Linked DNA regions of Homo sapiens: regions 2, 3, 4, 5 and 6 are each linked to region 1. The links come from fine-mapping of genetic effects on gene expression. A gene starts in region 1. Each other region holds a variant in brackets. All regions are shown on one strand. Distances are between the middles of the regions. Region 1 holds the start of DRAM1 (DNA damage regulated autophagy modulator 1). Region 2 has its middle 5.5 kb from the start of GNPTAB. Region 3 has its middle 36 kb from the start of DRAM1-AS1. Region 4 has its middle 22 kb from the start of GNPTAB. Region 5 overlaps GNPTAB (N-acetylglucosamine-1-phosphate transferase subunits alpha and beta). Region 6 overlaps DRAM1 (DNA damage regulated autophagy modulator 1).

Region 1 (4,149 bases):
GATCTATCCTGCTTCAGAAGCAAGATGATGGCACTTGGGCCTGAGATGTGCCATGAGAAACCAAGCCTAGGTTTCTTCCAAGCATAATACCAGATGGGAGGGCCAGGCGTGGTGGCTCACGCCTGTAATCCCAACACTCTGGGAGGCCAAAGCAAGGGGAATGCTTGAGCCCAGGAGTTTAAGACCAGCCTGGGCAATATAGTGAGACTTTGTCTCTACTGAAAATAAAAAATAATAACAATAAATGGAAAAAACCGAAAGGCCAGATGAGAACATCTTGATATACATAACATCTCCTTTCATAGGCAAAAACCACCATCATTACTGCAAATTTGCACTATTCTACCTATTGCTGTATTCCCTGCATCTTGTAAATGCTGGTTCCCTGGGAACACTGGCTCACACCTGTAATCCTAGCATTTTGGGAGGCCAAGGCAAGAGGATCACTTGAGGTCAGGAATTTGAGACCAGCCTGACCAACATAGTGAAACCCTGTCTCTACTAAAAATACAAAAAAATTAAGCCAGGTGTGGTGGTGCACGCCTGTAATCTCAGCTACTTGGGAGGCTGAGGCAGGAGAATCGCTTGAACCCGGGAGGCAGAGGTTGCGGTGAGCCGAGATTGTGTCACTGCACTCCAGCCTGGGCGACAGAACAAGACTCTGTCTCAAAAAAATAAAAAAAATTTTAAAAAATGCTAGTCCCCTCTTGCTCGATCTTTGTTTCCCCTTTCTCCACACTCCTCACCCCCACCCCCAAAAAAAGGAAAAAAACAAACAAACAAACAAAAAAACACAGAACATTGCTCACCAGACAGAATGGCTGCAGGGAAGAAGACGCCCTACATTTTCTATCATAGCAGTAACAAACCTTGGGTGTCACCAACCTTATCATCCGTTCACCAACCAATGCCTGTCCAGAGGGGTCACACTACTTAGATAAGGATGGATGGTTCTAACGTTTAAAGAATCCTGCCACTATGAGAAAGGCACTGAGCTGGAACCCACATAGGAGGATCAGACCACTGTCCCTGGCACTGAAGTGCCCCTCAGGAAGGTAGAGGCCAAAGCACAGGAAAAGTGAATGGGTAAAATAACACAAAAGATGTCACAAGTTGTTGACAAGTTGAGGACTTTGGGGTCACAGTGCCCAGAGGTGTCTGGTGCAGCTCCAGAGAATTTAAGCCAGACTCCCAGAGACCTGGGGGCAGCACAGTGTTGCTTTCTGCATGGCCGGGTGTGAATTCTGCTCCTACCATTAACTAGTGTGACATCAGTGTCACGTTGATGATATTTCATCAACTTTACACCACCGCTCGCTTGCGGGAATAATAAGCCCAAACATCCACTTCAAGGGATGTTGGGATGCAGAAGTGAAAATAGTGGCTGTTTAGCATATACCTGGATCTACCTCTTGTATAATATATGTCATCTATCAGAACCCATCTTGTTTCAATATCGCCTAAGAACGTCCTGCTGAGATTCTGTCCCATACCCAGAATGAAAGCTCTACCATCTATCCTGAACCTCTCCTTGCTGCCACCCTGTTCCATGCTCCGGGTACAGGCAGAAGTGCTCAGCGCCGCACCCGCTGCCTCCCTAAACATCCCAGGCTATCGGGAGCACCTCTCCTCCTGCTCCCACCTCTGCCTGACCACACGACGCCCCAAGCTGGGTCCGGACGCCTTCCCTCCCCGTCGGCAGCGCTCCCTGTGGTCCCTGTGCCTGCTCCTGGGGCCCTGACGCCCACCCTGCCACTCACCTGATATACGGGAGGAAGGGGTTGACGTGCCCGGAGAGCACGGCGACCACGTAGGAGATAATGAAGGCGGCTGACGACCAGGTCACCAAGAGGAAGGGGACGAAAGCCATTCCCCTCAGGAAGCACAGCATCGCGCCGCCGCCGCCGCCGACGGAGTGCTGCGCCCAGCGGGGCCGGGCGCCGGGTTGCTCCGGGCTGCCTGGAGGCGGCGGCCGGGCGCGTACACTCACGGACGGTGGGAGGGGAGGCTCCGCGACGGCCGGGGCAGGCCCAGCCCCGGAGGGAGGGGAAGCGCGAGGAGCGGAGCGAGGCTGCGGGCGGCGAGGCTGCCGGGCCAGAGTGGGTGGGGCGCGGGCTGCCCGGGCTTGTTGCGAAACGAGTGAAGTCACAAAGCGGCCCGGCAGGGTCGGAGGCGCCCGGCGAGCTCCAAGCGGACGCGACTACGGAGCCGCCGGAGGGGACGCGGGGTCGGGTTCCTTTCGCTTTTGGTTTGGACACTCGGCGGAGGCCGGGTTGGGCGCGGACGGGCGGCGTGGGGTCACTGGCGGGGACGCCCGCTCTGGCCTTCCCACTCTGGCCCTACCGCGCTGGCTCTTGCGCAACTCTGGAGAAAAGGATTTATTTCTCCCAACCCCTCCCTCCCGGGGGATTTCCGGAGTGCCGGGCCTCGCACCCCGAGGGCGCCCCCTCCGAGGTCCCGCCGCCGGCGCTTCGCAGCAGTGAGAGTGGCCACCGCGTGGTGACACCCATGCCATCCGGTCGCGCTGCTGCTGCGGGGGTCGGGCAGAAGTGTTCAATGAGGTTCGCCAGGTCACGGGGCGCAGATGTGGCTCCCACCTCAATGGTGAACACCCGAAAACCCAGACAGGGTGGGAACGGGTGGGGTGGAGAGTACGCGGGTGGGGTGCGGGGCAGGCGGGTGGGACTGCGCGCCCACGGAGCCGGGAGGCCCATTGTGCTGCTTTCCAGGAGAGCGCAACTGGAGAATATTTCCTGGAAATAAGATTTCCCAGGCCGGGCGCCGTGAATAGCCATCACTTTGGGAGGCATCCAAAAGCCATCACCCCTGGAATGCCACCACTTTGGGAGGCCGAGTTGGGAGGATCGCTTGAACCCAAGAACTAGAGATCAGCCTGGGTAACATAGCGAAACCCCTCTTCTACAAAAAAAAAAAAAAAAAATGAAAAAGAAAAAAAGCCGGTTCCAGTTACTCGGGAGACTGAGTTGGGATGATCACTTGAGCCTTGGGGGTCGAGGCTGCAGTGAGCCTTTATCACACCACTTCACTCGGCCTGGGTGACAGAGCAAGACCTTGTCTCAAAAAACAAACAAACAAAAAAAAAACAAAAAAAACTCCCCTCCAGGTTCTGGAGTAGCCCAGACTCGGAGCCTTGGCCTAAGATGATTAATAGTGACTTGATACATTTCAAGCCCTGTGAAAGGGATTTGTGTTCTGGAGGCACTTATAATATAAGCACATGATTTTGATAGTTTAGGGAGTCTGAGCCCAACATATGTGGCCAAAATTGTTGGGTCATTGGTGACCAAAGATAGGTTCCTTTCAGCCACAAACACATTTCATGGGCGCCATGCTAGGCTACAAAGATGAAATAGTAATAGTACCCTCAGGACGAGGACACTCATAGATCAAAATAACAAAATTAGGCCAGGCGTGGTGGCTCATGCCTGTAATCCTAGCACTTTGGGAGGCCAAGGTGGGTGGATCACCTGAGGTCAGGAGTTCGAGACCAGCCTGGCCAACATGGTGAAACCCCATCTCTACTAAAAATACAAAAAATTAGTCAGGCATCATGGCTCACGCCTGTAATCCCAGCTACTCAGGAGGCTGAGGCAGGAGAATCGCTTGAACCTGGGAAATGGAGGTTTTCTCAGTGAGCTGAGATCACACCACTGCATTTCAGCCTGGGTGAGAGAACGAGACTCTGTCTCAAAAATATAAATAAATAAAAACAAAATTATGTTATGTGGTTTATTAAATGGAAAGGAGAGGATTTTAAAAAGTAGAGACATGCCCAGAGCTGAGGGCCAGGGGCCTGGGCTCAGAGGAAGGACCACGGAGGTTTTCTGACAGATGACATCAGAGTTTTCAAAAGGAAGTAATTACTAACCAGGCAAAGAAAAATAAGATTAGCATTCCAGGCCCAGAAAACAACTGGAGGAAATGCATACACAGAGCTTGCTTCCCTGGGACTATGAAAGCACTTAAATAAGTGTGAGGCAGCAAATGGAGAGAGAAACAAAGAGGCAAAGTCACCAGAGTCCTGCTGAGAATCTTGGATTATTTTTGGTATTAAGGAGAAAGTAAGAACATGGGCAGACTAGTATTTCAAGAGATCACTGTGGCCGTGGAGTGAGTGCCCGCCATACA
Region 2 (4,000 bases), 41 kb after region 1:
AGCCTTCTTTTCCAGATTCCATTGTGAGCCACCGTGCCTGGCAGAAGCTGGTTTTTGAAAAGATTATTTAGGCTGGGCACAATGGCTCATGCCTGTAATCCCAGCACTCTGGGAGGCCGAGATGGGTGGATTGCCTGAGCTCAGGAGTTCAAGACCAGCCTGGACAACATGGCGAAAACCCATCTCTACAAAAAATACAAAAATTAGCCAGGCATATTGGTGCACACCTGTAATCCCAGCTACTCCAGGGGCTGCAGTGGGAGGATCGCTTGAGCCCAGGAGGTCGAGGCTGCAGTAAGCCAAGATGGTATCACTGCACTCCAGCCAGGGTGACAGAGAGACCCTGTCTCTAAAAAAAGAAAAGGTTATTTAGGCAAAGGGAGAAAAGATACAAAGAAGTAGTAGACAAAATGAAGCAAACAAACAACCAGAGTCAATAATGATAGAAATAACAGAGGTTTTAAAACCAAGTTGACATTAGTATATTCCACTATATAAAAATGATCCCAAGCTAGAAAGTTTTCCAAATGAGCTCTACCTCAAAACATAGGGTTATTCTCTATATCCTTTAATAACACACTGTAATTCAATTCATCAAAACTTTATACAACTCTGTGATTGGAACTTTTTTTTTTTTGAAACAGAGTCCCTCTCTGTCGCCCAGGCTGGAGTGCAGTGGCGCAATCTCGGCTCGCTGCAATCTCTGCCTCCCAGGCTCAAGCAATTCTCCTGCTTCAGTCTCCCACATAGCTGAGATTACAAGCATACACCATCACACCTGGCTAATTTTTGTATTTTTAGTAGAAATGTGGTTTCGCCATGTTGGCCAGGCTGGTTTCGAACTCCTGGGCTCAAGTGATCCACCCTCCTTGGCCTACCAAAGTGCAGGCATTACAGGTGTGAGCCACCTCAGCCAATGGTTGGTACTTTTATCAGTGCAAAATATATTAATTCATGTAATAAATTTTTATCAATTAGTTTCTATTGGCAAGACACAATGCTAAGATTAGGGATACATTTCTGGATAAGATGGGTAAGTCTCTTGCCTTTATGTTGCTTATATTCCAGTGGATGAAATGTACAAAAAAACCCACAAGTAAATATCACATAAACAGAATAAAGTATGGTTGGGCCTGGTGCGGTGGCTTATGCCTGTAATCCTAGGATTTTGGGAGGCCAAGGTGGGCGGATCATCTGAGGTCGAGAGTTTGAGACCAGCCTGGCTAACATGGTAAAACCCCATTTCTACTAAAAATACTAAATTAACTGGGCGTGGTGGCACATTCCTGTAATCTCAGCTACTTGGGAGGCTGAGGCAGGAGAATTGCTTGAACGTGGGAGGTAGAGGTTGCAGTGAGCCAAGATTGTGCCATTGCACTCCAGCCTGGGTAACAGGGCGAGGCTTCATCTCAAAAAAAAAAAAAAAAAAAAAAAAAGGACAAAGTATGGTTACATTTATGTGAAAATTAGGTATTTTATATATATGTGATGTGTTTGAACTCACAAAAAAGTTAACAGTGAGCCATGTTATGTTTTGGCTCTTGAAATTCTTCCATCCAAGTACTAACCAGGCCCAAACCTGCTTAGCTTTAAGGAGATCAGATGAAATTGGGCGCCTTCAGGGTGGTATGGCCATAGATTTGGCTCTTGAAATTCTGTCAGAGGCTGGCTGCGGTGGCTCATGCCTGTAATCCCAGCACTTTGGGAGGCCGAGGCAGGCGGATTACCTGAAGCCAGAAGTTTGAGACCAGCCTGGCCAACATGGTGAAACCCCATTTCTACTAAAAATACAAAAATTAGCCAGGCATGGTGGCAGGTGCTTGTAATCCCAGACACTTGGGAAGCTGAGGCAGGAGAGTCACTTGAACCAAGGAGGCGGAGGTTGCAATGAGCAGAGACCATGCCAAAGCACTCCTGCCTGGGCATCAGAGTGAGACTCCATCTCAAAAAAAAAAAGAAAAAAAAAAAAAAGAAAAGGAAATTCTATCAGAAACAGTTAAATTACTTAATAATTTTGTTTGCACTAGTTTGCAAAAATTAAAAGCCATCCTCACTTTCTTTTTAAAATGTATTTAATTTTATTCCAGATTGAAGGGATACACATGCATGTTTGTTAAATGGGTATACTGAATACTAGTAAAGATTGAGCTTCTAGTGTACCCATTACCCAAATAGTGAACACTGTACCTGACAGGTAATTTTTCAAATCTCATCACCCCCCAACTGTCACCTTTTTTGGAGTCCCTGGTTTTAATTATTAATATTGCCATTTTTATGCCCATGTGTACCCGTTGTTTAGCTCCCACTTATAAATGAGAACATGCAGCATTTGATTTTCTGTTTCTGAGTTAGTTCACTTAGGATAATAGCACCCAGCTCCATTCATGTTGCTGCAAAGGACATAATTTCATTCTTTTTTATGGCTGTCTGGCTTTCTTAGACTAAAGAAAGGA[A/G]TAGGATGACTTACAACTTACATGTCTATGAATATACACTAAGGGAGGGAATAAAATCAAAATGTGTTTCCTGGGAACAAGCAAGATTTTCAAGCCTAGAGCTTAAAAGGAAAGCATTTACAACATGAACATTTTATCTTCTTATCATTAATAAAGGAAGGACTTAATTAAATATACACTTAACAGGAGGTATTTTAACTTTAATCAGCTACTGAAAGCTCTTTAATTTTCTTATGACCTCACAGTGAGGCTTTTGAAGCACACTATTTCTATACACAAAATATGTGTAGGCCTGGGACAAGAGGTCCCTGATTGAGCAAGATTGTTTTCTTTGGATGTTCAGTTTTCACCCTGGCTAAGCAAAGGGAGACTCAAAGATGGTAAATGTTTTAGGGTCCAATACATAAAAACATTCTCATTGTCTCCTGAGTTTTGAACCAATTGAGAAGATCATGCAAGATACAGGCAGATGAGGATCAGCTTTAATATTAATGAAATTAACTGCAGAATGTTGTTTTACATCTATGGACAAGGGGATATATAGGCTAATACTTCATCCCTGACTCAGATACACTTTCTAGGCACTGGCTTGGGCCAAGGGACAGGAATTCCCATGCCTGGTCAAGAGTGGCTCAGAACATCTGCAGCAAATAAAAATACAGGACACAGCTGGGCACGGTGGCTCACGTCTGTAATCCCAACACTTTAGGAGGCTGAGGCGGGTGGATCACCTGAGGTCAGGAGTTCAAGACCAGCCTGGCCAACATGGTGAAACCCTGTCTCTACTAAAAATACAAAAAATTAGCTGAGTGTGGTGGTGGGCACCTGTAATACGAGCTACTCAGGAGGCTGAGGCATGAGAATCACTTGAACCCAAAAGGCAGAGGTTACAGTGAGCCAAGATCACGTCATTGCAATCTGGCCTGGGCAGTAAGAGCGAAACTCCATCTCAAAAAAATAAAATAAAATAAAAAATACAGGACACACAGTTATATGTGAATTTCAAGTAAATAAAGCTTTTTAAGTATTGCATGGGATTTGCTTATGCTAAATGTATGTGGCTGCTTATCTGAAATTCACATTTAACTGGGTATTTTATCTGGCAACTCTACTATCACTGGTCTCATTTCAACTCCTCAGGCCCCCTCCAATACATTTTCCACGCCACAGTTATGATAACTCTTGAAATTCATTATCTGATTGTGTCATTTGTTAGACTTTATTAAAATTCTTCATTGTCTTTAGGATAAGGTCTTTCATTCTTGCTATGGCCTTTAAGATCCTGCCAGACTCTCTAGTTCCATTTCATTGCATCTCCAGCCCTTCTTGCCTTAGATTAGGCCTTCCATGTGGCCAGCCTTGCCTGGAACATAGTTCCCTTCCCACCCCACATCTTGAGTCCTCCAGCTCAATCTTTAGTATCACCTCCTCCAGGAAGCCATCCCTGACCTCCCAGGCTAGGTTAGTGCCCCTCACAATACTAATCCAATATATATATGCCCCTCCAGAGTGTAAATCCCACAAAAGCAGGGACCATGTCTTTCTTG
Region 3 (4,088 bases), 51 kb before region 1:
TGAGGACTTCTTTTACCCAGCCCTGTGATAGCCTAGATGGTCCTTTCCCTGGGCCTCACCATGACTTCTCCTTTGGGAAGTCCAGACAGACGGACGACAACCCCCAGTCCCTCTTACCGCACCATCCAGAAGCAAAAGATACCAGGAGTTGAGAGTCATAAGAACCCACACCTCACAGCCACCAGAGCCTGAATCGTACTGAAAGCCTGCTGCACCCTGTCTCACTGCGCAGTGGAATCCTTGGCCTCTTCAGTGCTCCTCCTCAGGCTGTGGTGGTTGCAGGAGAACTGATATGGCTTGGCTATGTCCCCACCTAAAATCTCATCTTGAATTGTAATAATCCCCACGTGTCAAGGGGGGCCCAGGTGGAGATAATTGAATCATGAGGGCGGTTTCCCCCATACTGTTCTTGTGATACTGAGTTCACACGAGATGTGGGGGTTTTATAAGGGGCATCCCCCCCTTTGCTCGGCTCTCATTCTCTCTCCTGCCACCATGTGAAGAAGGATGTGTTTGCTTCCCCTTTCGCCGTGATTATAAGTTTCCTGAGGCCTCCCTAGCCATGTGAAACTGTAAGCCAATTAAAGCTCTTTTCTTTATAAATTACCCAGTCTCTGGTACGTCTTTATTAGCAGCGTGAGAACTGACTCATACAAGAACTGATCCCCATTCCCACCAAAGACCAGGTGTATCATACAAACCCTCTCTTACTGTTTCTACTCCTGATTCCTATCACCTGCTCCCACCCCCACAATTCTTAGATGCCCAGACTTCAACCAGGACCTGCCGTTTTGAAGTGGCAATCCAAACATTTCACCCATTTTTCTAAACTTGCCAGCTTAAGGGTTTCATTTCTCAAGGCCTTATATTATATAACCCTAGAAAAGCTGACAAATTAATTCATACTCCTAAGGCAGTGACTGGGAATCACACTGTCAGCATGGCAAAGGTTAACCGTAGGAGTCACAGTCCTGGGTTTGGTTCTAGCCCCATCATTTGGTATCTGGTGACAACCTCGCTACATCTTAATTTCCTCATGAATAAAATAGGGTTAACTATGAGGAAACGCCCTCCTTACAGTGTCTGTGATATAGGAAATAATCAGTATTAACAGAACATAAGTGATCATGTAAGCAGATGAAGAAATATCCTTAGTTTTTAGGTGAAAGTCCCTGAATACCTGGTACTGAAAAAATTATGATGCCTCCCCATAGGTAATTCCAAATAATATTTTCTTTTTCCAAATGACATAAAGGATACATTTAGGCAAACATAAAGCTGATTATTTCCAAGTCAATTTTTAAGTTTCTCAAAGGTAAAGTTTCTTTCCTCTCTCTCTCTCTCTCTCTCTCTGACTACTGAATTGCTGGTGTCCCCCACTCATTGAGTCATTCTGCAGTAACCACCAAGCTACAAGGTCAGGGAGGATCAAAAGGTCTGTGGGTTGCCCCTGGTGTTCTGTCCTGGATCACTTTGCCAGAGAGGAGAGAATATTGTGCTTGATTGTTGATGTCTGTAAAAATACAATCGTCTCCAGCTGGGCATGGTCGCTCACGCCTGTAATCCTAGCACTTTGGGAGGCCGAAGTGGGCGGACCATGAGGTCAAGAGATCAAGACCATCCTAGCCAACATGATGAAACCCCGTCTCTACTAAAAATATAAAGCTTAGCTGGGCGTGGTGGCACACGCCTGTCGTCCCAGCTACTCGGGAGGCTCAGGCAGGAGAATCACTTGAACCCGAGAGGCGAAGTTGCAGTGAGCCAAGCTCGCACCACTGCACTTTAGCCTGGTGACA[G/C]AGCGAGACTCCATCTCAAAATTTAAAACAAACAAACAAAACAACAACAACAACAACAAAAATACATCCTCTCAAAAGATAGGGAAGAAGTGTAAGACAAGTAACAGGACTTCAGCGAGATACCAAAAAGGAAGTGAGTACAAACTGGAAGAGGCATTGACAAAACTTTTGCAACTAATTGCAAAAGTTTGCAAGATCATAATGAAAAACCCAAGTGAACTGGAGACACTCTTGCCCATAAAAAGAAGACATGTCCGGGTTGGGGTAGGAGGCAGAAGATAGGTGAGTTCTGCTGTCAGCAGAAAGAGGAGCACACAGCCTTGCATTCCCTGCAGTAGGTGGTTACATAAAAGAGGGAACAGAAGAGGTGTGTGTAGAAGACCCGTGACCAAGTTGGCAGGCCTCTGTCCCACACCATCTACTGCAAAATCCACATTTGCACCTGATCTACAGTCATGGATGACTGAGTCACCAAGGAAACATGAACTTATATTCAGCATCCTCAGGTTAGAAGAAAATGTGTGTAATCACAAAGATTCCTGGCTTGTCCGAGTGCAGTGGTGTTTACAACTAATTGATCGCAACCAGTTACAGATTTATTTATTTTAGTTTAGTTTTCTTTGAGACAAAGTCTCGTTCTATAGCCTAGATTGGAGTGCAGTGGCACGATCTCTGCTCACTGCAACCTCTGCCTCCCCAGGCTCAAGCGATACCCCCCTCTTGCCTCCTGAGTAGCTGAGACCACAGCTTGCACCACCATTCTTGGCTAATTTTTTAAATTTTTTTGTAGAGATGGGGTCTTGCTATGTTACTTAGGCTGGTCTTGAACTCCTAGACTCAAATGATCTACCCGCCTCAGCCTCCCAAAATGTTGGGATCACACGCGTGAGCCACCATGCCCAGCCCAGTTACAGATTTTTTTCTTCCTTCTCCACTCTCACTGCTGCACTTGACCAGCCTTTAAAAAAAAAAAAAAAGAAAGAAACAAAAAAGAAAAAGAGGTTCCTAACAAAAATATTCAAGTAAAAAAGTTCTAAAGGCAAGATAACATTTGCAAAATAACAGATGAAGTTTCCAACATCCCACTCACTGGAATTTGTCCTAGAGATTTCCTTGCACATGTGTGATATGATGTATGTACAAGGTCATCTACTTGTAATTGCAAAAATTTGGAAACCACATAATTGCTCATCAGATAGGGAACTTGCTAAATAAATGATGGCACAGCCATACAATGGAATACTGTAAGGTATAAAACAAAGCAAATTAACCTTAAAAATGAGGGAGATCTCTATGTATTGATAAAGGAAACATCTCCAAGATACATTGCTATGTCAAAAAAGTAAGGCTCAAAACTGTTCTTACAGTATACTAATTTGGGGTGAAAATGAAAAGGAAAACGTTAAAATATTTGTTTTGGCTTGTATTTTCATAAAAATCTGATAAAAAGTGGATACCTAGGCTGAGCACAGTGGCTCACACCTGTAATCTCAGCACTTTGGGAGGCCAAGGCAGGCGGATCACTTGAGGTCAGGAGTTGACCAACATGGTGAAACCCTGTCTCAACTAAAATACAAAAGTTAGCTGGGTGTGGTGGTGGGCACCTGTAATACCAGCTACTTGGGAAGCTGAGGCAGGGAGAACTGCTTGAACCCAGGAGGCATAGGTTGCAGTGAGCTGAGATCATGCTACTCCACTTCAGCCTGGGCGACAGAGCAAGGCTCTGTCGTTAAAAAAAAAAAAAAAAAAAAAAAAGTGGATATCTGCAAGGAGAGAGTGAATTGAGTAAATGCAGGTAGGGAAAAGCAAAAAGGCTTTTCACAGTATACCTTTTCATATTGTTTTGAGTTTTGAATTGTGAAAATATTACTCAAATTTTTTGAAATAAATGGTTCAGGGGGTGAGGGTTGTGAGTGGGGGCAGCTGAATCCACTTATATAAAAATGATCTTTCCTGTGAAGGCAAGTCTGTACTGAAAAAAAAATGCAAAAGAAAAAAATGAAATAAAAATGACTCTAGATGATAGTTGTTTACTGTATTTTCATATTAGGGGAACTCTTGTGTATCCATTATCAGTCAGGACTCTTACAGGTAAAATCATCTGAAGTCTAACTCCAGTTTATTGAAGTTAGAGACTTTATCAGCTCATGTAACTGAGTCGTCCAGAGGTGGAACTGGCCTTGAGGATGGTGGGGCACAGAGCAGTGCTCCTTGCTGAGGAACTACCTAAACCACAGGCTTTCCAGGCACCCCACGCCACCCCGTCTTAAACCACAAGGCAGATTGTTGACA
Region 4 (4,149 bases), 25 kb after region 1:
AGTCAAAAGACCCCTTTTCAGCATCCTTTTTGGGGAAGTGAAAGGTAATTGAGTGTGACCTGCCATTGGGTCACCATGAGGAAGTGGGTAGACAGGGACCTGATAACCTCTACCACATGTCTGAGGGAGGCAGTGGCTGAGCCTTGAAGGGATGCAAAAGTGAGGTCAAGTCACATTTGTAGATCAATGGGCCCTACCACAACTGATATGGTTTGGCTGTGTCCTCACCCAAATCTCACCTTGAATTGTAATAATCCCCAGGTGTCAAGGGCAGGGACAGGTGGAGATAATTGAATCATAGGGCATTTTCACCCATACTATTCCTGTGGTAGTGAATAAGTCTCTCAAGATCTGATGGTTTTATAAAGGGCAGTTTCCCTGCACAAGCTCTCTTGCCTGCCACTGTGAAAGACATGCCTTTGCTCCTCACTCGTCTACCGCCATGATAGTGAGGCCTCCCAGCCATGCGGAACTGAGTCAACTAAACCTCTTTTCTTTATAAATTACCCAGTCTCAGGTATGTCTTTACTAGCAGTGCGAGAACAGACTAATATACGCCAACCAAGAGGACAGACCAATAGTCATACTGCACACTCTAGCAGCAAATGTCCCCAGTGTCCCAGTGGCTGAGCATAACCAGGGTATCAATACTAAGTTGAGCAAAAACCTTGAAGCCTACAAGGATTCCAAAGCCTATGGAGAGACTCATTTATGGGTAAATGTGCCAAGAGTGCACATGGCTTGCCCATGGAACCCTGACACCTTGAAAAGTAAGAGAAAGAAGGATGAAATGGCTCTGATGTGGAGTTAAATATTAGATTATTTAATATTTACTCAGCAAGAGATAATCTTAACCATCTTGCAGAGACTAACGGACCTTTATTTGACAAGTTTAACTCCTGCGGCATCCTACTTCTCTGCCTTCCTCCTCCCTCAAACCAAATGGAGTTTACTGAGAATGTTTAGATCAATTATAAACAGAGACAAAGGAGTAACAGTTGTGGCCTATGGGAGTTGCGGTATTTAAATTTTTAACCTTATGCTGAGCATGGTGGCTCACACCTATAATCCCAGTATTTTGGGAAGCTGAGGCAGGTGGATCACTTGAGGCCAGGAGTTCGAGACCAGCTGGGCCAACATGGCAAAACCTGTCTCTACTAAAAATACAAAAAAAATTGGCTGGACGTGATGGCTCCTACCTGTAATCCTAGCACTTTGGGAGGCCAAGGCGGGCGGATCACCTGAGGTCAGGAGTTCGAGACCAGCCTGGCCAGCATGGCGAAACCCCGCCTCTACTAAAAATACAAAAATGAGCTGGGCGTGGTGGTGGGGAGCCTGTAATCCCAGCTACTTGGGAGGCTGAGAGAGGAGAATTGCCTGAACCCGGGAGACAGAGGTTGCAGTGAGCAGAGATCGCACCACTGCACTCCAGCCTGGGCAACAAAGAGCGAAACTCTGTCTAAACAAAAAAAAAAAAAAAAAATGAGCTGGGCGTAGGGGTGCAGGCCTGTGATCCCAGCTACTCAGGAGGCTGAGGCAGGAGAATCACTTGAACCTGGGAGGCAGAGGTTGCAGTGAGCTGAGATCACGCCACTGCACTTCAGCCTGGGTGACAGAGGAACACTGTCTCAAAAACTAATAATAATAAAATAACAAAATGAATAAATAAAATTTTAACCTTATAACACTTGCTATGTATCAGGCACCATGCTGAGATCTTTATGTGCATTATCTCATTTGATCCACACAGCAGCCTTGTAAGTTATTATTATACCCATTTTACACATGAGGAAACTGAGACTTAGAAATGATAAGAGGAGACCTGGTATCAAGTCACACTGATTGATTCCAGAGGCTATGTTTTTGATGTTTCCCTGTAGGTCTCTATGTTTTCCCTGTAGGTCAAGTAGGATACTTAATGAAAGAATAAACACTTCAATCATCACTGATTGATTGAGGTTTTATATACCACCCTAAACTTTTATGTCTCTGAAATTCCAAGTGTCATTCATTCATTCAACAAATATTTTTGAGTACTTACTATGTGTCAGTCCCTGGGCTTAGCAATAGGTGTATAATGGTTAATAAACTGCATTTGACAAAATCGGGGTGGTCACCCAAAAGGAAATCAGGATCTCTTGCCCTGATGTTGAACCTAAGTCAGTTTTCAGACCTGGTACTGGTGGACTGAAGAGGTGGCCAGGTCCCCAGAATAAAGAACCCTGAAACATCATCTTGAGTATATTCTGTAATGATTTTCAGTCCTTTATCAAAAAGACCAGTGGTCATTTACTGAGGTAGCTGTGCACTGGGGAAAGAGGAATACCCAGAGGCATTCAA[G/C]GACTATTCAACACGGACTGAGCTGACACTGAGATTTGGAGTCCTGAAGCATTATCATGTGTTGTTTGTCTTTGTCTTTTAGTGTTTAAGTTAATAATAGGTACATCACACACTTAACATATATGAGTTTCAAACATTTTTTCAGGGCTGGGTGTGGTGGCTCATGCCTATAAACCCAGCACTTTGGGAAGTCCAGGTGGGCAGATCACTTGAGCCCAAGAGTTCCAGACCAGCCTGGGTGACATGGTGAGACCCCATCTCTAGAAAAACAAACAAACAAACACACACACACACACACACACACACACAAACCAAGAAATTAGCCAAGCACGGCTATTTAGGAGCTATTTAGGAGGCTGAGATGGGAGGATCACTGGAGCTTATGAGGCGGAGGTTCCAGTGAGCTGAGATCACACCACTGCACCCCAGCCTGGGGGACAGAGTGAGACCCTGTCTCAAAACAAGCCACAAAAACAAAAACACAAATTTTAAAAATAGATCTAGATTTGTCATTCTTCAAAATAAGGTTTTAATTGGTTTTAGATTTTCTTTTTTTTCTTTTTTTTTGTTTTTTGAGATGGAGTCTTGCTCTGTAACCCAGGTTGCAGTGCAGTGGTACGATCTCAGCTCACTGCAACCTCTGCCTCCCATGTTCAAGCAATTCTCCTGCCTCAGCCTCCCTAGTAGCTGGGATTACAGGAGCACGCCACCACGCCCAGCTAATTTTTGTATTTTTAGTAGAAACGGGGTTTCACTGCGTTGGCCAGGCTAGTCTCGAACGCCTGACCTCAGGTGATCCACCTGCCTTGGCCTCACAAAGTGCTGGGATTACAGGTGTGAGCCTCCATGCCTGGCCAAATTTGCATTTTTTAGGCTACATTATTTCTAGCAGATATAGATTTATTTCCAGTTTAAGACAAAAAGACATTGTGCATGATCCAGTATGTTGTAAAGATTCACTTACTGCCTTTATCTAATAACTTCTGGTTTTTCATAAAATACTGACATCTTAATTGGAAATTTTTTTCACATAACTAATTATTTGTTTGCATTTTCAGAAATGTATAAAAGATCAATCCAAAGTTCAGAATAATCTCTTTTTTTTTTTTTTTTGAGACGGAGTCTGGCTCTGTCACCCAGGCTGGAGTGCAGTGGTAGGATCTCCGCTCACTGCAAGCTCCGCCTCCCGGGTTCATGCCATTCTCCTGCCTCAGTCTCCTGAGTAGCTGGGACCAGCCAGCGCCACTGCACTTCAGCCTGGGCAACAGAGCTAGACTCAGTCTCGAGGAAGAAAAAAAAGAGAAGTTTCTGTGTAATCTGCCCCTTAATTTGCAAGTAATTAAAGGTGGATATAAATATGACTGTGGAACTGCCTCTGAGCTGCTACTCTGGGCACACTGCCTATGGGGTGGCCCTGCTCTACGACAAGCAGTCCCTTTGCTGCTGCTGTACACTGCCAGTTCAAGAAAAGTTGCTATTTAACACCACCAGCTCACCCTTGAATTCTTTCCTGGGTGAGGCCAAGAATCCTCCCAGGCTATGACCCAATTTTTGGGCTCGCCTGCCCTGCATCAGTACAAACAGACCCTGGAAACTACTCAGCAGTAAAGATTAAATAACTACCGATACATGAAACAACATGGATGTATCATAAAAGCATTACGCTAAGCCAGGCACAAACGCTATTCACTGTATGATTCCATTTATGTGACATTCTAGAGAATATAAGACTACAGGTACAAGAAATCGATTTCCAGAGACTCAGAGTGAAAAAAGGAGATTGATCTCAAAGGGCACAAGTGATGTTTT
Region 5 (4,149 bases), 81 kb after region 1:
AGAGGCATTTAGCAAAAAATGCAGTTTTCTAGCTGGGAGTGACAGCTTCATAATTTTTCATTGCCTTTTTTTTTAAAAAACAATGATTCTTAGCTAAATTCTTTTGTCTTGAAATGGCCAGCAACCACCACTGCAGACCTCAATCTATGGTACGTGTCAAACCATTCAACTTTTTCTTGTAATGACATGACTTTCCTCTGCTTCTTGGGAGCACTTCCATCGGCACTAGTGGCACTTTCTAAGAGTCCCATGATGTTCTTCGCAGTTTACGGTATTGCACTAAATATGAAAAATACGTAAGAAACATGAGAGATCACTTTTTACCGCAACATGCAGTTTACTAGAGAGACAAACTGCTCACGTGGAGATAATTAGTGTCACTACAGATACTCGCAACATGTGAGCTCGCTGCAATAGTAACAGGAGATGGGTACAAAATTATTTTAGTACAGTATATACTACAGTTGATTTTATTCGGTTATGATTTATTGCTGCATTTTTATGTTTGTTTACCTCTCTCAATTGCAAACGGTACCATGTACAGTCTGTGTTTGTATAAGTTTTGATACATTTTAACTTTTTATAATATAATAGATTTGTGTAAGTTCTGGATAATGAAAACAGAAGTGGTAGGTGCAGCTTCCATGATGTCTCCTTAAAGGTGGGGCATGTCTTTCCCTTTCCTTTCTGCAGTTGGAATGAATTCTAAATGCCTGGGCCCCACAGCCCATCTGAATGTAGCAGGGCCACTTCTTAGGGGCAGTGGAATAGGATGCTGGAGGAAGCCTGGTCAGGAAGGAGGGCATGTAGAGTAGAAGGAAAGGACACACAGAAAGATTAGATAGAAGGGAATGAGCTGGCAAAGGAGATGGAAAAGGAGCCACCAGGGCGACAGGAGGGAAAACCAAGAAAACATTTCCACAAAGAGGAACTGGGCAACTGCTATGAATACTTGAGTAAGAGATGAGGAAAATGCCGTTGAGTTTGACAATGTGGGGGCCTTGGTAAGGCCACTAAAGTGGTGAAAACATAAGTGATACTGGAGTGAGCTGAAGGGTGAGTGGGAAAGCAGGAGATGACCTTGAAAGGGACAGAAAATGTGGGGTAGAGGGACTCACTGGAATGGATATGGAGTGAAGGGAAGGTGTTCCCAAGGTACGGGAACATGTTTGCGTGCCAATGGGAATAATCCTACTGAAAGGAAAAGAGAGGCAAGGTCTTGAGAACACACAAGTTGATGAGATCCAGAGCAAATAGAGATTGGATGTCTGCAAGGTGGGGGGACACTTCCTCTGTGGTAAGAGGAATGAAAAAGAAAATGGGATGTATGTGTGGGTAGGTTTATAGATTTAGGGTGCAAACATGAGGGAACTTCTATCTAAAGCTTTCCATTTTCTCCTGAAATGTTTAACAAGGTCGTTAGCTGAAACCTCACAGGTAATAAGGTCCTTATCCTCCCATATCTTGTCAGTCCCTTATGTTTCTTGGTTTTTTGGTTTTTTGAGATGAAGTCTCGCTCTGTTGCCCAGGCTGGAGTGCAGTGGCGCGATCTTGGCTCACTGCAACCTATGCCTCCCAGGTTCAAGCAATTCTCCTGTCTCACTTCCCGAGTAGCTGGGACTGCAGGCGCATGCCGCCATGCCCAGCTAATTTTTTGTATTTTAGTAGAGACGGGGTTTCACCGTGTTGCCCAGGCTGGTCTCGAACTCCTGAGCTCAGGGAATCCACCCTCCTCAGCCTCCCAAAGTGCTAGGATTACAGGCGTGAGCCACCGTGCCC[G/A]GCCTGTCCCTTCTGTTTCTGCTTGTGTCTGTAAATGCTCTGAGAAGAGTCTTTCCTAAACTTTAGACGGATTCTGTAACTGCCTTAAAATCCTTCAGTGCTTCCAAGGCACAGAAGGCACGTCACGCTTAGGGCCCAGCTTTCTTTCCTAGACCCATTTCTCAACAGTTATCTACCTGTCTTCTGGACAAAGCCAGCCACACAGTTGCCCTGAAACAATTTGCCCTTGCTGCTTCTCAGCCTACAAGCATGCTCTTCCAACTGGCTGGCCCTGTCCTTTTTTCCCTACCTGGTGAACTCATTCTTCAAGACCCATTTCAAATACCACATCCTTTTAAACCTCTTTGATTCCGCTACCCCATTCCAAGCATGGTGAGACACTAAGTCTTTTAGTTTGTCCTTTTCAGGAACTGTAGCTTATTCACCTGGATCTAACACGATGTATGTGGTAGGCAGTAAGTGAATACATGAATTTTGATTTCTTTACCCATTTCTCTAGCAATTCTAATGAAATTAAAATGAAATGAAAGTTATATACTCTTAGTCTTTGATGCGAAGAAAACGTTTCTTTTTCTTTGTTCTAGGTGGTTCTGGAATGGAGCCGAGATCAATACCATGTTTTGTTTGATTCCTATAGAGACAATATTGCTGGAAAGTCCTTTCAGAATCGGTAAGATCTATTTTGGAGAAATCTATTATTTGGACCTAAATCGTAAGTCATGAAATAGCCATCCTGTAAATATGACAGTTTAAGGGGTCTTTCTGAGTTATAGATATGGTTTAATTTACTCAGGAGTATGCCCATCTGATGTGTTCACTTTAGCAGCACATATACTAAAAAAAAGGAAAAAAAAACTGGAACGATACAGAGAAGATTAGTGTGGCCCCTGTGCAAGGGTGACACACCAATTCATGAAGTATTCCGTAAGATATTTTTTTAAAATAAGGAAAGAAAATATGTCCATCTGAAGAAAAGTGTGTTCACCACATTTTGTGGGTGAAAAATCTGATTCACAGAGAGTAATCCCACCTTGTAGTTTATTGGGTACCTTAAATTGCATGATTGCATTTTCTGTCTCCCCAGGTCTGTGAGGTAAAGGGAATTTCATCCCCCTGTAGGATGAGGAAACCAGGTGGCTACTACACAGCGGTTTCTGAGCCCTGGCCGGAATTCTGTTGACAGCGTCCTGTGAAATGGGACCACTCCCCAGTAAACCACTGGGGCTGAACCCCACTCCATTGGTCACTCTTGCTGCTTACCTATGAGGGAGGAGCAAATAGCCTCATACCTCATTAGTGTGGGTCTTTCCCTTGGAAGGCCAAGCTTCTTAGTGCCGCCATTCTGGAACGCAGTCTTCACCATTTCTTGTCTTTGGGGATTTTTTTTTTCCTCTTCACAAGACAGACCTCAGAATGGAAACAATTTTTTTCAACACCCTCCTTCCCTTTTTGCAGATAAAATGAATCACACAAGTCCTTTCTGGTTTTTGTTTCTGTCTTCTCACTATTTTTTTGGTTTATTTTAGAAAATGTAGTAATTTCATTATAAAAGGTGTTTATTTTATTTTATTTTATTTTTATTTTTATTTTTTTTTGGAGACAGAGTTGCACTCTTGCCCAGGCTGGAGCGCAGTGGCACGATTTCGGCTCACTGCAACCTCTGCCTCCTGGATTCAAGCGATTCTCCTGCCTCAGCCTCCCAAGTAGCTGGGATTACAGGCATGCACCACCACGCACAGCTAATTTTTGTATTTTTAGTAGAGACGGAATTTCGTCATGTTGTCCAGGCTGGTCTCAAACTCCTGACCTCAGGTGATCCACCCGCCTCGGCCTTCCAAAGTGCTGAGGTTACAGGCATGAATCACCGCTCTCGGCCTATTCTCATTTTAAAATGAATTAAGTATTTTTAAAATGTTTCAGTTTTATTTTCAAATATGGCAAATGTGGATAATTATAACCTTATAAACTAAAGCACTTTGGGGTCCATACTAATTTTTTAATTTTAAGGGACCAAACAGTAAAAGTTTGAGGACCATTCCTTAATATAGCAGTTCTGAAACTTTAGCTTGCAGTGGAGGGCTTAAGAAAATAACAGTTACTTCCCAGCCCAGAGTTTCTGCGTATAGGTTTCAGAGGGGTTCTGAGAATTTGCACTTCTACCAAACTTCCTGGTAATACCAAAGTTGCTGGTCTGGTGCCCCCACTGTGAAAACTACTGCATTAAAGGATTTTTAATGAAATATAATTTTCACTTTAACAAGTTAATTTCCCTAAGGAAAGTTCTAAATTGATTAACATTTTAAAATCAGATATTTATTGATTTGTGCCTTATGCTGTGCCACGTGCAGATGGTGCACAGATGCATAGATC
Region 6 (4,000 bases), 41 kb before region 1:
TGTCCGCAATTTAAAACATTTGAATTGATAAACACCTACCTGGAAATCTTGGATGAAAGTTAGGAAGTAGAAAATAAAACCAAAGGCCACTGTCCATTCACAGATCGCACTCACTACGTGATATACATAATCCTAATGCAATAATAAAGAAACAGAATTTAGCCGAAAAAGACTCACTTTAATGTACATACTGAAATACAATGAGGAGTTTCAACCAAAGGAAAAAGCTGTCCAGTGAGCATAAGTCAGAACTTTGAGGATATACGGTAAGCACAACCACGTTACTAAGTGTCAGGGCACCTGCCCACTGAGAATGCGAAGGCAGGTATTCCAAAGTTCTTTCTGGCTCGCACAAACTCTTGTTTTAAGATTTAGTTTGTCACTTCAAAAGGTAGACTAAGGACTGCAAAATGGCTGAGACTGGGAAGCAAATTTGGACTCAACAGAAGAAAGAAATTTCCATACAAGGCATGACTTGGTCTCGCTCTGCTGAGAATCCCTAAGTGTAAGGCTATGCTTAACAAGCACTCTCGCAGTTGTTCCAAAGAAAGTGTGTACACATCTAGATGAACTTGGCCAACTAGTCCCCTAGGTTTCGTGTTTCCCTGTTTATATAGAAATGATCATTCAGGAAATAGTTCTGCTTAACATCCCAAGGTAAATACAGCTACAAAGAAAATGCTAATAATGGACATCCACATGTTAACTGTATATCTTCTTGGAGGCAAGAATGGGAGAATGGAAGCCAAGGAGAATGGCTTCAATCAGATGTTCCAAACTCAGTTGCCTATGGAGGCCAGAAAATTAACAATAATAAATAAAACTGATGGTTGTGAAAAGAGAGGGAAGTTAGGGAGCCCACGCCTCATCAGCTCAATTCCATGGGAAAATAATACACTAGTGTTGCTTTCAAAGGGGTTTAAAAAAACAAAACCGTGTGTGTGTGTGTGTGTGTGCGTGTGTGTGTCTGTGTGTCTGTGGATGTGTCTGTGTGTGATATCTCCTGATTTTTCAGTGCTGGAAACTAATTTTAAAACTCTGTTGCAATGGCTCACACCTGTAATCTCAGCACTTTGGAAGGCTGAGGCAGGAGGATCACTTGAGCCCAGGAGTTTGAGACCAGCCTGGGCAACATAACGAGACAAAAAAAAATTAGCTGGGTGGGGTGGCCTGCGCCTGCAGTCCCAGCTACTTGGGAGGCTGAACTGGGAGGATCACTTGAGCCTGGGGGATAGAGGTTGCAGTGAACCATGATTGCGTCACTCTACTCCAACCTGGGTGACAGAGCAAGACTCTGTCTCAAAAATAATAATAATAATAATAAAATAAAAATAAATAAAACTCTGAGTCAAATATGCATGTCTGCATTCTGATGTTAGCTCACATGCCAAATGAGGCCTGGGGACTGTCAGTGTGCCCCCTCTGATTTCCTACGTCACTTTCTGCTCTGCTGAAATGAGCAACTACCCCTAACTCCCTACACCCCCATGCCTTCTGAAGCTGCATACATGGGCTGCTCTGCCCTTGGCATGTGCTGTTGAGGGCTGAGCCCACTGCTCTTCTACCCCAAACTGCTGTAGGCTACAAGGGTAAGTAAATGTGCTGGATCACAGGGCAGCTCCATGGTGACAGTTGTTTTCTTTGATCCTGTTTTCATCCAGACAGATCGAGTGGAGGCACACCAAGCCCTCCGAGCGTCACTCTTCACTCTCCTTGTCATGGTCACACTCACCCACTGTTTTCATGCTAGGTCACACCGAGGAGGACCTGACCAGCCTACAGTAGGAGATACAGAACAGAGGCTTCCTCCTTCTGGTACCAGTACCAGGGGACCTGCCACATCCCGTATCATCCCTGAACAAGGAAGATGGCTTCTAAAAATAAAGGCAGAACTTTGGGGGGAATTTCTTAAGCATGATATTAGTGAAAGTACATGGAACCAAGAGTCCTGAATGCAGGCAAAGCCCTAATATCCTTGCTATGTGAAATGAGACAGTGACATTATAATTCTCACCTCCCCCTACCAAGTAAGTCACTGCATATAAATGTGCTGTGAAAGCTGTAAAGCACTACACAGAAGTTTGAGGCAGTACCTAAATGATTATTCAGTGAATTAATGTAAAGGGAAATTTTTTTACATCCTTTGATATTAGGAACAGAAGGAAATGCAAGAGTGGCGCAGTCATTTATGGAGTGAATAGAAAACCATGTGCTTTTCACATTTTTAAGATAGAAAGTGGAATATAACAGATTTTTAACTGCCTGGGAATATACTTCGATAAGCCCTTCCCAGCAGCGGGTTTGTGATAGAAGGTC[T/G]CCCCCGAGTGGCTGAAAAGTAAAGTACACCTGAACTGCTCCGCTATGCGGTCTCACTTTCAGAAAGAGGTTCTCTCCAACGGAAAGAGGAACTGAACCCCCTTCGCATGATGGGGCTAATTCCCCATATATAAGAAAGAAAAAAACCTGCCTTTTGCCTAGGTCTAACCTATTGACGAATTTGACCATTTTAAGGTTAGATTTTAAAGAAGGCTTTTTTTTTTTTTTTTGAGATGGAGTCTCACTCTTGTTGCACAGGCTGGAGTGCATTGGCATGATCTCGGCTCATTGCAGCCTCCAGCTCTCCAACTCCTGGGTACAAGCAATTCTCCTGCCTCAGCCTCCCAAGTAGCTGGGACTACAGGTGTGTGCCACTACACCAAAAATTTTTTTTTTTTTTAGTACAGACAGGGTTTCGCCATATTGGCCAGGCTAGTTTTGAACTCTAGCCTCAAGTGATCCACCCGCCTTGGCCTCCCAAAGTGTTGGAATTACAGGCCTGAGCCACCGCACCCGGCCAAGAAGCACTTTTTGATCTCCTGTCTGGATCATTCTCTTCCTCACCATCTTCTGTCTCTCTCTTGTCTTGGCAGGCTTCCATTACCTGCCAGAGTTCTCCATATTGGGAAATCCTGCTGTCTCCTCTAGCCACCCTGGTGTTCCTCCTTTACCTCTTACCTCCAGTCCAGAACAGGACTCAATAAACATTTGGTTGATAGCTGAATGAAAGAACCATCCCTCTCACTATTTAACTTCTTGCCATTGGCTTCTAACCTCGGCGTTTTACTGAAACTACTTTTTGACAAACATCACTGACTCCCTTATTGCCCAAATTGAGGGACTTCATTCCTAAAGGCTATTCAGCTGCATATGCCATAGTTAGCCATTTCCCTTGCCTTTGAAAAATGTCCTTTAGTCTCTGGGATCGTATCTCCTCTCATTCCATCGTTAGGATTAATTGCTATTGCTTCTGCATTTCCACAATGTGTTGTCTGAAGTCCAGTTCAGCATTTTTTTATTCTTCAAAGTATTACATTTAGCCATTGACAACTGGCTGTTTGCCCCTCTGAACTATAAAATCCCTCAGGATCCTCTATCCCATGGCCACCCTGCCCTCTATAATCTTTCACAGTCTTGCATGTGGTAGGGACTCATCAATGAGGTCTACCATACAGCACAAGTCTAGTTCTTCTCTCTGGTCCATGATCCCTTTACTTCTCCTTTGCTGGAGGTATTCTTCCACCTGATCCTTGGGGGAAAGAATCCTCTGTCTCTCACTAACTCTCTTCTTTCCTGGGGCATCCTTGATTCTCCTATAAGGCGTCTAGATGAACCACTACTACAGGTATCTAACAGGATGGGTTGATCTCAATGTCAAACATTTGGTTCCATGTGTTCTGATGCTTGGTCCAAAATGTCCTGGTCTACCCCATACTCTAACAACTCTACCCTACACTCTGACGACTCCCAGTCCCACCAGAAGTCTAGGCCCACCGGAGTGCAAGTGATCCTTCCACCTCAGCTTCCCAAGTAGCTGGGACTACAGGCGCATGCCACAACGTCTGGCTAATTTTTGTAGAGGCAGGATCTTACTGTGTTACCCTGACTGGTCTTCATCTCCTGGACTCAAGCAATCCTCCTGCCTCAGCCTCCCAAAGTGCTGGGATTACAGGCATGAACCACA

Evidence for each region. PIP is the estimated chance that this variant, and not a neighbour inherited with it, causes the effect.
Region 2: its variant is fine-mapped to the expression of DRAM1 in whole blood (TOPMed, PIP above 0.99).
Region 3: its variant is fine-mapped to the expression of DRAM1 in tibial artery (GTEx, PIP 0.98). The same link has a PIP of 0.9 or more in aorta and tibial nerve.
Region 4: its variant is fine-mapped to the expression of DRAM1 in whole blood (TOPMed, PIP above 0.99).
Region 5: its variant is fine-mapped to the expression of DRAM1 in blood mononuclear cells (TOPMed, PIP above 0.99).
Region 6: its variant is fine-mapped to the expression of DRAM1 in blood mononuclear cells (TOPMed, PIP above 0.99). The same link has a PIP of 0.9 or more in whole blood.

The regions. Positions count from the first base shown.
Region 1 is chr12:101,875,532-101,879,680 of GRCh38, reverse strand. It overlaps DRAM1 (DNA damage regulated autophagy modulator 1), which reads right to left and starts at 2,101. Exons shown (of 7, transcript NM_018370.3): 1 at 1,761-2,101. The coding sequence starts at 1,891. RefSeq lists enhancers at 1,215-1,264, 1,405-1,494, 1,133-1,914, 2,075-2,124, 1,915-2,697 and silencers at 1,715-2,054, 2,305-2,464.
Region 2 is chr12:101,834,457-101,838,456 of GRCh38, reverse strand. It overlaps the pseudogene RNA5SP369. Among named protein-coding and RNA genes, the nearest start is that of GNPTAB, 5.5 kb to the right of the region's middle. The variant A/G (reference allele first, on the strand shown) is at 2,454.
Region 3 is chr12:101,926,094-101,930,181 of GRCh38, reverse strand. No RefSeq gene overlaps it. Among named protein-coding and RNA genes, the nearest start is that of DRAM1-AS1, 36 kb to the left of the region's middle. The variant G/C (reference allele first, on the strand shown) is at 1,797.
Region 4 is chr12:101,850,840-101,854,988 of GRCh38, reverse strand. No RefSeq gene overlaps it. Among named protein-coding and RNA genes, the nearest start is that of GNPTAB, 22 kb to the right of the region's middle. RefSeq lists a cis regulatory region at 1-197 and an enhancer at 1-206. The variant G/C (reference allele first, on the strand shown) is at 2,341.
Region 5 is chr12:101,794,977-101,799,125 of GRCh38, reverse strand. GNPTAB (N-acetylglucosamine-1-phosphate transferase subunits alpha and beta) reads left to right here. Exons shown (of 21, transcript NM_024312.5): 2 at 2,364-2,449. It also overlaps the pseudogene RNU6-172P. Among named protein-coding and RNA genes, the nearest start is that of GNPTAB, 34 kb to the left of the region's middle. The variant G/A (reference allele first, on the strand shown) is at 1,780.
Region 6 is chr12:101,916,241-101,920,240 of GRCh38, reverse strand. DRAM1 (DNA damage regulated autophagy modulator 1) reads right to left here. Exons shown (of 7, transcript NM_018370.3): 6 at 40-132. Among named protein-coding and RNA genes, the nearest start is that of DRAM1, 41 kb to the right of the region's middle. The variant T/G (reference allele first, on the strand shown) is at 2,317.